Linked DNA regions of Homo sapiens. The protein of the gene in region 2 purifies or fractionates together with the protein of the main gene of each other region. This does not show direct contact. Each region holds a gene or a part of one and is shown on either strand. Other genes may lie near its edges. The genes, in order: MYCBP2 and HHIPL1.

Region 1 (7,291 bases), on a different chromosome or scaffold from region 2:
CTGTCACCAGGCTGCAGTGCAGTGGTGCCATCTCAGATCACTGCAAGCTCCGTCTCCTGGCTTCATGCCATTCTCCTGACTCAGCCTCCTGAGTAGCTGGGACTACAGGCACCCACCACCACGCCCAGCTAATTTTTTTGTATTTTTGTAGTAGAGACGGGGTCTCACTGTGTTAGCCAGGATGGTCTCGATCTCCTGACCTCGTGATCCACCTGCCTCGGCCTCCCAAAGTGCTGGGATTACAGGCATGAGCCACTGCGCCCGGCCTCAATCAATGTTTATTTGACAAATATATTCCCCATCTTAATGTCTGGATACATTCAATACTTTAAAAGCTGAGGCAACCTGAATGGCTGGTGCTGCCGAGAGCGCTTCGGTGAAACATATCATGCACATGTCATCGGCGTCTTGCTTCAGGCTTGTGGCACTTTTGTCACAGCCGTGTAGACAGGGCAGACAGTGCTCTTCGTTTTTAACACCCCCGCATGGATGGCCACAAGGATGCGTCTTACTACAGGCTATCTTAGCGTATTCCTGTTAAAGATGAATTACAATGTTACACAAGTATGTAAAAAAGCACACATTCTGGTAATTTTCCTTATTATATAAATTTCCAAAGATTACTTTCCCACAGGAAGTATCTATGCAGGCCAAGTAACAACAAAGTAAAGTTATTTCTAATCTTTGTTTGAATATAAATTAGGCTTCTTAACAAAGTTTTTTTTTTTTGATGCGATTTTTAAAAAATGCCACTCTCTATAAAGGGAATGCTGATAAGTGAATTATAATTTCATATTTGTCATCATGCACAGCTATAAAGCAAAAAGTTCCTGGCTGGGAGTCGTGGCTTACACCTGTAATCCCAGCACTTTGGGAGGCTGAGGTGGGCAGATCACGAGATCAGGAGTTTGAGACCAGCCTGACCAATATGGTGAAACCCCATCTCTACTAAAAATACAAAAATTAACCAGGCATGGTGGCGCGCGCCTGTAATCCCAGCTACTTAGGAAGCTGAGGCAGGAGAATCGCTTGAACCCGGGAGGCGGAGGTTGCAGTGAGCCGAGATCGTGCCACTGTACTCCAGCCTGGGCGACACAGCCAGACTCCGTCTCAAAAAAATAAAAAATAAAAAAAGTTCCCCAATGTATAATTTCCCAGTCACCACTCTCCGCATCACCAAAATGCAGATTTTTTTTTTTTTTAAAAAGGTACCTTTGACTCTCTGAGCATATCCACATTCTTATTAATTGAGAAACCAAAAACATTTGGACAACATAGAATATGTTTATATATGTTCAGGATTAAAGAACTCTTAGATGTTGAAAATGTATTTTAAGGAAATAAGTGAATAATGTCTGTAAGAGATAAAGGAAATACAGTTCATAAATTTTTAACTGTTTCTAGTACAAAAGTAGATATTAAATACATATGATCATGGTAACTGAGAAACATACAAAAAGAGTGTGGTTTGGGCTTGAGAGCCTTATTTGACCCATTCTTCAACTTTGGTAAGGCATTTGATGCTTCACATAGGTAATACACTCATTTAGGAAGCTGGAGTGACGCTGAGCTAAAACTCTTTTCTGTATGAAGTAAAGGTGTCACAGGGGAACATGGACAATGGGATGGCCTGTGTCACTATATACTCACCTGGCAATCTGCATCAGAACAAACACTGCCAACAGCAGATAACTCTGTTCCACTCCTGGAACCACAGAAGCGACATGCTTCTGAGCTACTCGTGGTGGGTTTGCCTAGGTTCAAGCAGAAAAATAAAAATCCTTCTTATGGATGTTTTCTAGATATGTTAACAGAACTAAATTTTAAAAAGCAAACTAGGTTTGTATAAGTTGCTATCCTTGGGAAATCAGCCTGACAGTTTTAGAACGGAAGGTTTCTAAGTTGTCCTAATTATAAAGTAAATAATGACACACAAAAAAAGAAATTAAAGACCTATCTGAAGCCAAATACACTCTCGACTAATATTTTTTTTCAGTGAAAGAAACAGACTAGACTTCTAGTCAAGTTACCAGACTGAGCAGCTGTTACAAGCCCCTGACTCCAAATGCACAATACCATAAAAAATATGATAACCAAAAATTAAATAAAAATACACAGAAGTTAGGGAAATCTTTAACTATATATAACAAAATTATAAGGCATGGTATAAAGCCTATCATCAGAGTATGAAACTTGAAAAACAGAATTCCTACCTCAGGAACTCTGCAATTTGAAAAGGAATTTAAATATGTTTGAAATACTTAAAGAAGAAACAGAATCAATAAAACAAGAACAGAGCAATAAGAAAAAGAACGTGAAGATTTGAAAATTACAGACCAAGCTGATTTTTAAACACAGATATAAAAATCTAACTATAATTAATATCAATATATTGAATTCAGCAATATTTACAGAAAAATCTATTTAAAAAGGATGGTTTACAAGGATGGTTTGACATTAGAACATTTATTAATGCAGTATACAGCACTGACAGATTATAGGAGGAAGAAATCAACTATGAGAAAAGAAGGTCATGCTCTTGCAGCATGCAAAGTCACCCTAGAATTAAATTGATTCGGATTTACACCTAACTCCAACACTGGAAGTTCGTGTCAGTCAAATGGCAGACTGCAGATGTGCTGAAAACTGAGAATTTGTAAGATTCAACATAACTTTGAACTAGGAATATACAAGATTTACTTTAGAAAAGCAGCAAAATGAAAACTATGTTTTAGAGATAAAAATACATTTAACATACATAGGTTACCTTTTGTTTTATGTCTATTCATTTTTGTTAATTATTTTATTGCTATCAATGGAAACAGTACCATTCACAACACCTTCAGAAGCATTAGGTCTACAAAAACCTCTAAATATCATAAAATCATACAACCTTATAATAAATAGAGATCTTAGTGATCATCTAGTGCAGCAATTTTTATTGTGGGGCAACAACTAGCAGAACTAGAAGGGAATTATCAATAGAAATGTATTTTATCTATGGAGCCCCATTAGTTGTGATCCTCTCACTTTATAAATGAAGTCAATGAGTTCCAGAGGTTAAGTGACTTGCTCGACACCACACAGCTAGTTAGTGGCAAATCAGGTTTCTTGACTTTTGGTCTAATGCTCTCTTCACCATAGAACACTCTATATATTTAGTAAATATATAGATCAATGATGTCATAATTAAACATCAGAATATCACTCAAAATTATTCACAGTTTAATCAGTTGGCACGGTTTAATCTTTTTTTGTGGGTTTTAAAGGCATGGCTCAATCTTTAAACCTTTTACCTGTGTGTTCTCGGAATTCCACCATTGCCTTCATTGTTTTAGAATCTGCCAGTGCCATCAACCAGAACAATTTGGTTCTACCACAACCTTCATGAAGGTCAACCTTTATAGCTTCTTCTTCTTCTTTGAAGACCTATTATTTCATTAAAGAACAGGGAAAAATATGCTTATTTATCACTCTGAAAGGGAGAGTATAAAATTTAATTATTCAATAATAATAATGGCTTTCATTTAAGCACTCTAAGAAGTTTTGAATATTTCCAATCTTCTCTTTAATCTTCACAGCAGTCCCTTTTTTATAAATGGAGAAATTAAGTGTTTCTAAGGATAAAACAACTTGCTATTTATAGATGGTAAGCGAGACAGCTGTGAACTCAACCAAGGTCTTTGATTCCAAAGTCCACTTTTTCCCCCTACTACACAAAGCCTCTTTCACACATTTATTTCAAAATTCACTGAACATATTTTATGCTCCAGAGACAAAAATCTTCACCTGTCTTTGATGAGTTTTGGTTCTTCGATGAAGGTGAAGGAATCTGTCACAGTCTGTACATAAATTTCCACAGACATTGCATAAAATGATTGCTGCAGTTTCACCATCATCATGGTTATCACACATAGGCTAAAATAAGACATTTCCACGTTACTTAGATTAACAAGCAAGTCTCAGACTCTCATACAAATTGAATATAATTTATTTACAAAAATAAACCGTTATTCGGAAGTCTATTAAGAATTTAGAATCTGAATATTAAACAGAATTATTGCAAATGTACTTAACTATAAAAATCTCTCAAAACTCCAAATCCAATCATTAATGTGCTTTGCAGGTTCAATGATTAATACAATGAACAGGTATACTTTGTTACTTAGAGACTTAAGAAATGTCTGCCCCATTATATATCTAAACATTCTGTATGCCAAAGGAAGAAACTGTTTATTTTTGAAACTTGAACATTAATAAGAAAATGGTGAAAGGGCCTATATAAAGTTTTCCTTTCTAGTGAACTTAAAGATACCCATCAAACCTACTTAAGTATATATGTGAACAGGTGGTGTGTCATGTTGCCTGTGTTATTGCTTTATTTCCTTCCTACCATAAGACTGATTACATTTTAGTAAAATATCTAGTCACTAAATCAGACTCTGGCTAAAAATAAATTTTGATATGATGCAAACATGACTCAGAGAAGAAGAAAGCTCTTTAATATACTTAAATAAAAGCCCCTAAAGTTTCCATATACTATGAAGTAGGGACTCTCTGAAATAGACTTGTGAGATGAACTTGGCCGAAGGGACACAATCTTTCAAGAGATCCACTAACTGTTTATGTTGATGTGTTTTTTGTTTGTTTGTTTGTTTTTAAGCTAAGCTAAAGCTTACTGTAAAGGAAAGCAAGATAAATTCTTACAAAATTCTGATCTTACCATTTGTTTTTGTTGTCCATCCTTTCCCATCCATCTCCCCGAGGAGAGACGATCTACGTGGTCCTGATCAAGAACACATAGGGATGCGAGAGCAAGCCAGAGCTGTTGAAAGGGAAGGCTGTTACACCACTGAATTTTTAGGAAAGACTTATGAAATGCTGACTGTGACACATCACAACAGCTCAATAAATGCTGGCTGATTTTGAAAATACATAGATACTCAGTGGCACTCAAGTCTTCCTGATGTGGTAGCAGGCATACACGATCACTGTCCTATGTGCCATGCACACAGGAGGCACTCAGATATCTACTGAACAAGTGACTGTTTCTCTGATGAACCACCCTGTCTTCTATCTGACAAATAAAATTATCCTTTATTGGTCTACTATGTAAACAACATATGAATAAATGAATTGGCATATTTAATATTTACTACTAATGTCTTCTGAATATTTTTCCATTTAGTATCATTAAATGCCAAAGAAGGTGGTACAGCAACTGCTAAATTGTGTACAGTCCCATGAGTAGTCAGGTACACATTAAATCCTTCTAGATAATAAAAGTTCCTCAGAAGTCTTTGTTGCCCCTTGTTGCCCCAGAAAGCCTAATACTATACTTGGTGCACTTTGTCAGAAATACATACATGTCTAAAAGCTTTAGAAAACTGTTCTCCAAAATAGGGCCGGGCACAGTGGCACATGCCTGTAATCCCAGCACTTTGGGAGGCCAAGGTGGGTGGATCACCTGAGGTCAGGGGGTTATGACCAGCCTGACTAACATGGTGAAACCCAGTCTTTACTAAATACAAAAAAAATTAGCCAGGTGTGGTGGTATATGCCTGTAATCCGAGCTACTTGGGAGGCTGAGACAGGAGAATCGCTTGTACCTGCAGGCGGAGGCTGCAGTGAGCCAAGATCGTACCATTGCACTCCAGCCTGGGCATCAAGAGTGAAACTCTGTCTCAAAAAAAAAAAAAAAAAAAAAAAGACAACTGTTTTCAGAAATAGTTAAAAATTTCTGAGGCTTAAAGGGTAAGCTTCAGTTTTATATAGAATGATATATCCCCTCATTAATGAAGAATAGAAAATGACTTAACTAGCTCAACTCTAAGAAGTGCATGTGAGTGTTATTGGATACAGAAAGCAAGAGATGTTAAAATAGGGACAGAAAAATAGAAAAAGAAATAATGCATGCAAGGAGGAAGGGGAATGCAGACTGAAAGAAAGCAACACATGAGTGGTAGGAAAGGATTACTGTCAAAAATACCTATTTCAGGTGTCACAGTCAATAATAGCAAGATAGCATAAATTGACTTTTTCCGCCCTAGGGATATATAGTTTATCTTCTTCAGATTTCTGAGGATTAACCTAAGCAATTTTTACCAGCATTCACTTCTTCCTAACGTTGTCAGACTGCCCTCCTTCAAGGAAATCTCAAATCTCTTCTGGAAGTATATGGGACATGAAATCTAGCAGGTTAAAACTTACTATAAATGTGTCATCTGAAGAATGCAATCTCATTTCCTCAAAGATTTCCACCCTGACCCTGCCCTGGACAAGCACTTCTTGCTTTTTAGAAGTAAGACCTATAAATCCTGTAAGTAAGTTACAGGGCTCTACATTAGGAACAACCAGGCATAGGCAGGGGTCTTGTCTCCAAAGGACCTTCGGTCTATCACAGCATAATGCTGGCACTAAACTTACTGTGGTAAACTACAGCAAACAGATCATTAGAAAGACAACACGCAAACAATGTACAATGTAATTAGCCTTTTCTAACCAGTGTACCCTTGGCTTCCTAAACAATAACAAAAACAAGTGACACAGAACACATAACAGTGAGAAGTAACGACTAGTTCATAATATAAAAGCCCTTTATACTTTTTCAATAAATACGGTATTTGGTTAAAAAATAATTATGTTGACTTAGTGATTAAAATTTGTTTAAATCTATTACTAAAAAAGAACACGCAATGATACACACCAAATTTAAAACAAAACAAAACAAAGCAAAACCTACTCTAGTTGTTGCAATACATCTCACTGGAGACCTAAATTCTTCTTCCATCTTGGTCAAGGCAATGATGGTTTCTGCAATAGCATTTTTTGTCACTCGGGACCAAGCTTCTGACAGATGACCCTATTGAGCAGAACAGAGTATTTTAATAAGTGACCAGAAATGTATTACCATAGTAAACTCTTTTTTCTTAAATAACATCTCCTATCAAAGGAAATATTTGTTTTTAGTGAGACCATGGAATTTTAGATTATGGGCACAAACTTTTGAACTAAAATTTCTTCGTGATCCTATGGAAAATTCAACTTCTAATCATCATTTTGATATTTAAAAATAAATAAATAAAAAATTAAGTTCTCAATACTCTTTTCCTGGAAATCAAGGGCAATTACTCTCACATCTGATAAAAACATAACAGAAATACTAAGGTTATCTATGTTTGAGAAGTTTGTCACTTAGCATAAAATTTACACAGTGAAGCTAACTGCTTTAGATGAGTATTACAGGAACCTAAAATATAAACAGGTTCAAACTGCAACTACCTTTATTTGC
Region 2 (5,232 bases):
TTCCTGGGTGGGCAGCGCTGCCTGGAAGCACGTGGCCAACCACCTGCTCCTTCACTGGAGGGTCTGGAGTAAGCTATCCAATGTGGCAGCCATTGGCCACATGTGGCTTTCTGGTACTTGACATGTGGCTAGTCCAATTGAGATGTGCTATGTGTAAGATACACACCAGATATCATAGATTAATACCAAAAAAGAATGGAAAAAAAAGGTCACCAGGCACAGTGGCTCACAACTGTAATCCCAGCACTTTGGGAGGTGGAGGCAATAGATCTTTTGAGAACAGTAGCTCAAGACCAGCCTGGGCAACATAGGGAGACCACTTCTCTACAAAAAATGAAAACAAACAAACAAACAAAAAAACTGGCCAGGCATGGTGGCATATGCCTGTGGTCTCAGCTACTCAGGAGGCTGAGGTGGAGGGATCACTTGAGCCTGGGAGTTTGAGGCTGCAGTGAACAGTGATGGGACCACTGCACTCCAGCCTGGGTGACAGAGCCAGACCCTGTCTCAAAAAAAAAAAAAATTGATATTTATATATAGGTACCTGTTAAAATGATAATATTTTGAATATGTTGGGTTAAATAAAATATATTATTAAAATTAATTTTACCTGTTTTACTTTTTTAACATGGCTACAAGCAGATTTTAAATTACCTATTTGGCTCACATTATGTTTCTATTGGATAGCACCAGTATGGACAATGACTATGGCCCCTAGAACAGGAGGATTAGCATTACCCAGGAGCTTCTAGAACTGAAAATTCTCAACCAAGACTGAGTCAAAAACTCTGAGAGACAGGACCCAGCAACCTGTGTTTTAAGCAGCCCTGTAGAACTTGATTCTTCTCAAGCTTGAAACCCACTGGTGTAGATGACACCATACGAGGAGTGGTTTCCCAGCAGGAATTGTTGGGGAGATGCAGGCATAAGAGGTGGCTCTGAATTGGCTGCCTTTACATGGGTGGCCTGGCAGGGTGGAGGTGCTGTATCCCAGGGAAGGAGAAGGATCCGGCTCTGGGAGAATGGGCCTTGGTGCAAACCTGCCTCTAAAGCCCCGGGGACCACTTACATAACACCCTAGGAATCTGTCCCCTCATCTGGAAAACAGGGACAGTGATATTGAGGGTGTCTCGTGGAGCTGTTGTCAAGATTAAATGAGCTGACACACCCGAGGTAGCTGGCATGTAATAACTGCTCAGTAAAAGCTAGTTCTCAGTGGGGGAGGAGGGGCGAGGGGACAGAAGCGCGACAAGAAGACTTGAGTTCTACATGTTAGGCTGAAGGAGCTCTTTCTTCTGCTATTGTGAGAGTTTCTTCCCATGTCATTCTGATGCTGGTCCTTCACGTGGCATGCCCCTCCTCACTCTGTCGCAGACAGTTGGCTGCTGCCAGCATGGATGCCACCAGCCTCGAACTGAGCTTTCTGTCTAGGAAGCAACCTAGAGTGTACGTGCCATGCACGTCTGCAATGCTACCTCATTTTTCATCCAGTAATCCTTCTGGTGACCTCTATTTTGCAATGAGACTCAGAGAGGCACAGAGCCAGGACTGGAACCCAGTTTCCAGCTTCCTTGAACCTCCCAAACATTTCTAAGGTATCAACATGGTGACCCCTAGGCTCAGTCTAGGGCCTGGGATGTTGTGACCTCTGACTGATGTCTTGAACACAGTCCTGGACACTGGGCCACCCCTGCAGCATTGACCCTGAGGCTCCAGCACTAAGCTGTGTGGCACTGGGCAGGGCAGCCCCTCTCTGAGAATCTGATCCTGGCTATTGACTAGAGGTTGGATTAGAGGGGGTGAGGGTGAAGGCTGTGCCCCCATCCTCAGAGGCCCTGGAGGACTTTAAGGCAAGATCGGAGTCCCTGGGGACAGAGTCACATGTGAATGCTCCCTCAGCGGCCAGCTGTAGGTGGTGGAGTGAAAGAAGCACTGGACAGGCAGCCAGCTCTGCCCTTCTCTGAACTTGTGTCCCAGTGGGGTGGGGCTGGCTTTCAATGCCCTTGAGGTGGCCCAGCAGGAAGGCCCACAGCAGGGTCCCAGAGCTGGACTACCTGGGCTCAAATTCAAATTTTGGCTATGTGACATTTGGTAAGTGACAAATGCCCTGGAACTCGGCTTCCACGTGAGTAAATGTGCATTAATATGAGGATTACATGAGTGAATGGTATGTTAAACTTTCAGAGCAGTGCTTGGCATGTAGTAAGCGCTCAGCAGAGGTCAGCTGTTGTAGAAAGTAAAAGTTCCTCTTGAAAGTTTCCCTTCTTGTTAAAGAATAAATCGTAAGTGTTAGAAATAATGGTTTCTTTTAAAGACGAACTTCCTTCAAACCTCCTTGCTTTATGCTAATAACTCTTTGTCAAGCCCTATTCTATGTAACTGTTAGACGTGCTCACAGGCACATAGTACGTTCTATGTCCTTATACTTTAACCAAGATATCTGTGCTGGACGTGCTCACAGGCATGTCCCAGCTCACAGCCTATACCCCTTCCTTATTTGGGAATATTATTACTTTTCTAAGTCCTTTCGTAAGCAACTTCCTCTTTTCCTTTATCCTTCCATTACTTTTACCTATTTAGAAAAATTTTAAACAGCCAATCGGGTTTTAGTTTAGATTGTGCGGTCTGGCTTCTGCCAATGGACATAGGACACAGTAGCAGGGACAAACTGCATAAGGGCTAACAATTGCTTCCCTCCTTTGTTCAGGTGTCCTCTCACTATTGTTCCATCTGCGATGAGCACCCTTTCTGCAGAAAGTAAAATTGCCTTGCTGAAAGAATTAAATTTATGTTTTAGTGCTATTTCTTTCCAGCATCGGGGAACAAGTATTTACATATAACAGCTGTCCACTCTTATTACTACCTAGGGCAGAGGTCTCCAAACCCTGGGCCACGGACCAGTACTGATGGGTGGCCTGTTAGGAACCGGGCCACACAGCAGGAGGTGAGTGGCAGTGGGGCAGGGTAGTGTGGGGAGCAAGCATTCCCACCTGAGCTCTGCCTCCTGCCAGATCAGCAGTGGCATTAGATCCGCATAGGAACATGAAACCTACTATGAACTGTGCATGCGAGGGATCTAGGCTGTGAACTCCTTATGAGAATCTAATGCCTGATGATCTGAGGTGGGACATTTCATCCCAAAACCATCCCCCCAACCCCCATCCATGGAAAAATTGTCTTACATGAAACCAGTCCATGATGCCAAAAAGGTTGGGGACCACTGACCTGGGGACTGTGGAGTGAGTCCCCAGGAGGCAGGCTGCAGCCTAGCCCAGGCCTGGTTTGGGGCCTGAGAGGTGATGAGTTGGAGGCTGGGGAGGAAGAGCGCCTGGCCTGGAAGACTGAAGGCCAAAGCCCGAACTGCCCAGAGAAGTACTGGAGGGCCTGAGGCCGCACCCAGAGCTCCCTTTGCCAACCCTCCTAATCCAGCTCTGAGCAAAACAGCTTCTGGGGCCAGGCAAGCAGGGCCCTGGCTCGGCTGCATTCTTGAGGGCCTCAAGGCTTGCTGCACCTTCCCTGGCTCCAGTCTCAGCGTGGCCTCATCTGGCAACAGGCCTGGGACACTCAGCCTCCCTGAGCTCACTTCCTCATCTGCACAGTGAGGAATTCGGCTGGGATGGTCATTAACGGCCTGCTATCTCCTAACACGCCCGGCGTCAGAGCTCAGAACTCCCCTGCATCCCAGGAAGATGCCCACTCAACCTCCCCTGGGCCACTGGAGGCCCGAGAGGAGCATGAGGCCAGCAGCGGGGGCACCTGCCAGGCAAGAGGAGCCCCCAGGGATCTCCATCAGCTGCTTCCCAGCCAGGCTGGCACTCCCACACCAGGCAGGAGCCCCAGCACACCGCTCTCTGCAGGCATAGTGTAGCTGGGGAGGGCAGTGGTTAGGGTGCGGGGACTCTAAACTAAGCTGCTGTATTCAAACTTGACTTCTCCCTTCCCTGGCTTGGTGCCCTAAGATATCTAACCTCTGTGTGCCTCAGTTTCCCATTCTGTAAAGCACAGAGTATGAGGAGTCCAAGACAGTGACCTAAAGCTTTCTGCTGCAGCCCAGGATCCTATACTAGTGGCTAGGAGACCCTATACTAGCAGCTAGGAGACCCTGCCAGACTCATGCCTGCCCCAAGGCCTGCCCAGCCACCCCTGGTGCCAGCTCCCAGAACTTGGCACAGCATCACCCCCTCCCAAAGCCCCCCCATAGGTTGGGTTTGGGTGCCCCACCCAGACCTCTTCCAACCCCCGACATGGGCCACATCCTGTCTTCACTGCCTGGTGACTCATCTGCTTACCCACCCCCCACCCGTGCTCCCATCCGAGGCTGAGCGCAGTCATACTAAGTGCCCCTCTGCGGCCTGGCACAGAGCCAGGGCCGAGCATCCCTGGAGTGAAGGAGCTTCCACCTGTGATGCAGGTGGGAAGCGGGAGGCCTCACCCCTTTCTCCTGGTTCCCACCCCGGCTCCCACACAGGTGCAGGTCAGAGAGGAGGCAGGAAAGTGGTGTGTAAACAGCCACATTATTGGCATAGCCCTGGGTGAAAAAGTGTCAGTAGTTTCACTGGACCCCCAGCCTGGTCAGCCCCGAGGTAGGGCTGGAGGAATCAGGTCTCCTGGGTTTACACTGAGCAGGGATGGGGATGGAAAGGACAGAGGTGGCCCCAGGGCCCAAACACAGCTTTGAAAGTAGTGGAGGCCCACCGACTCACTGGAGGGCCAGGGTGAAAGCTCTGCCCAGCTAGTGTGGGTGGCTTCTGCCCCAAGAGCAAGAGAGAATCAGGCCTCAGGGTTGGAGGAGGCTGGTCCCATCCCAGGAGCACCCACAAGGACTGAGTATGCTGCTGAGTGGCTTCTCCAGCATACGGCCTTGGAGGTCATCCAGTCCTCACAGCCATCCTCCCTGAGCAGGTGCTGGCTCCTCCACGCAGCCTGCCCCTCCAGTGGGGCCCCAGGCCTGCAGCTCACCCTGCTCCCACCTTCCAGAAGGCTTTCCCTTCCCCACTGGATGCCTTCCGGTTCTCTCCAGCGCCTCTGACTGCCAGGGGGTGGGGGGGATGCGGGCACCAGGCCATGCTGTCCGGGCCACATTCCTCAGGCCACCCTCCGGCTGTTCTTGCACCTTCCATTCCAGCTGTGGGCAGGACAAGCCTGGTTCTCCCCACCGCCCTCAGTCTGCAAGCTGTGCCTCTGTTAGCACAGCCAGGGGCCATGTCCGTCCTCGAAGCCTGGCTGCCCTCC

What was found.
Region 1: the proteins of HHIPL1 (region 2) and MYCBP2 purify together in Homo sapiens (co-immunoprecipitation; 2 studies listed by BioGRID and IntAct, with this or other methods). This does not show direct contact.

The regions. Positions count from the first base shown.
Region 1 is NC_000013.11:77,057,873-77,065,163, forward strand, and holds part of MYCBP2 (E3 ubiquitin-protein ligase MYCBP2), read right to left. Parts: intron 6,863-7,291; coding exon 6,743-6,862; intron 4,826-6,742; coding exon 4,724-4,825; intron 3,919-4,723; coding exon 3,790-3,918; intron 3,430-3,789; coding exon 3,297-3,429; intron 1,755-3,296; coding exon 1,651-1,754; intron 535-1,650; coding exon 346-534; intron 1-345. UniProt on the Homo sapiens protein: Atypical E3 ubiquitin-protein ligase which specifically mediates ubiquitination of threonine and serine residues on target proteins, instead of ubiquitinating lysine residues.
Region 2 is NC_000014.9:99,675,938-99,681,169, reverse strand, and holds the end of HHIPL1 (HHIP-like protein 1 isoform a precursor), read right to left. Parts: 3' UTR 601-5,232; downstream 1-600.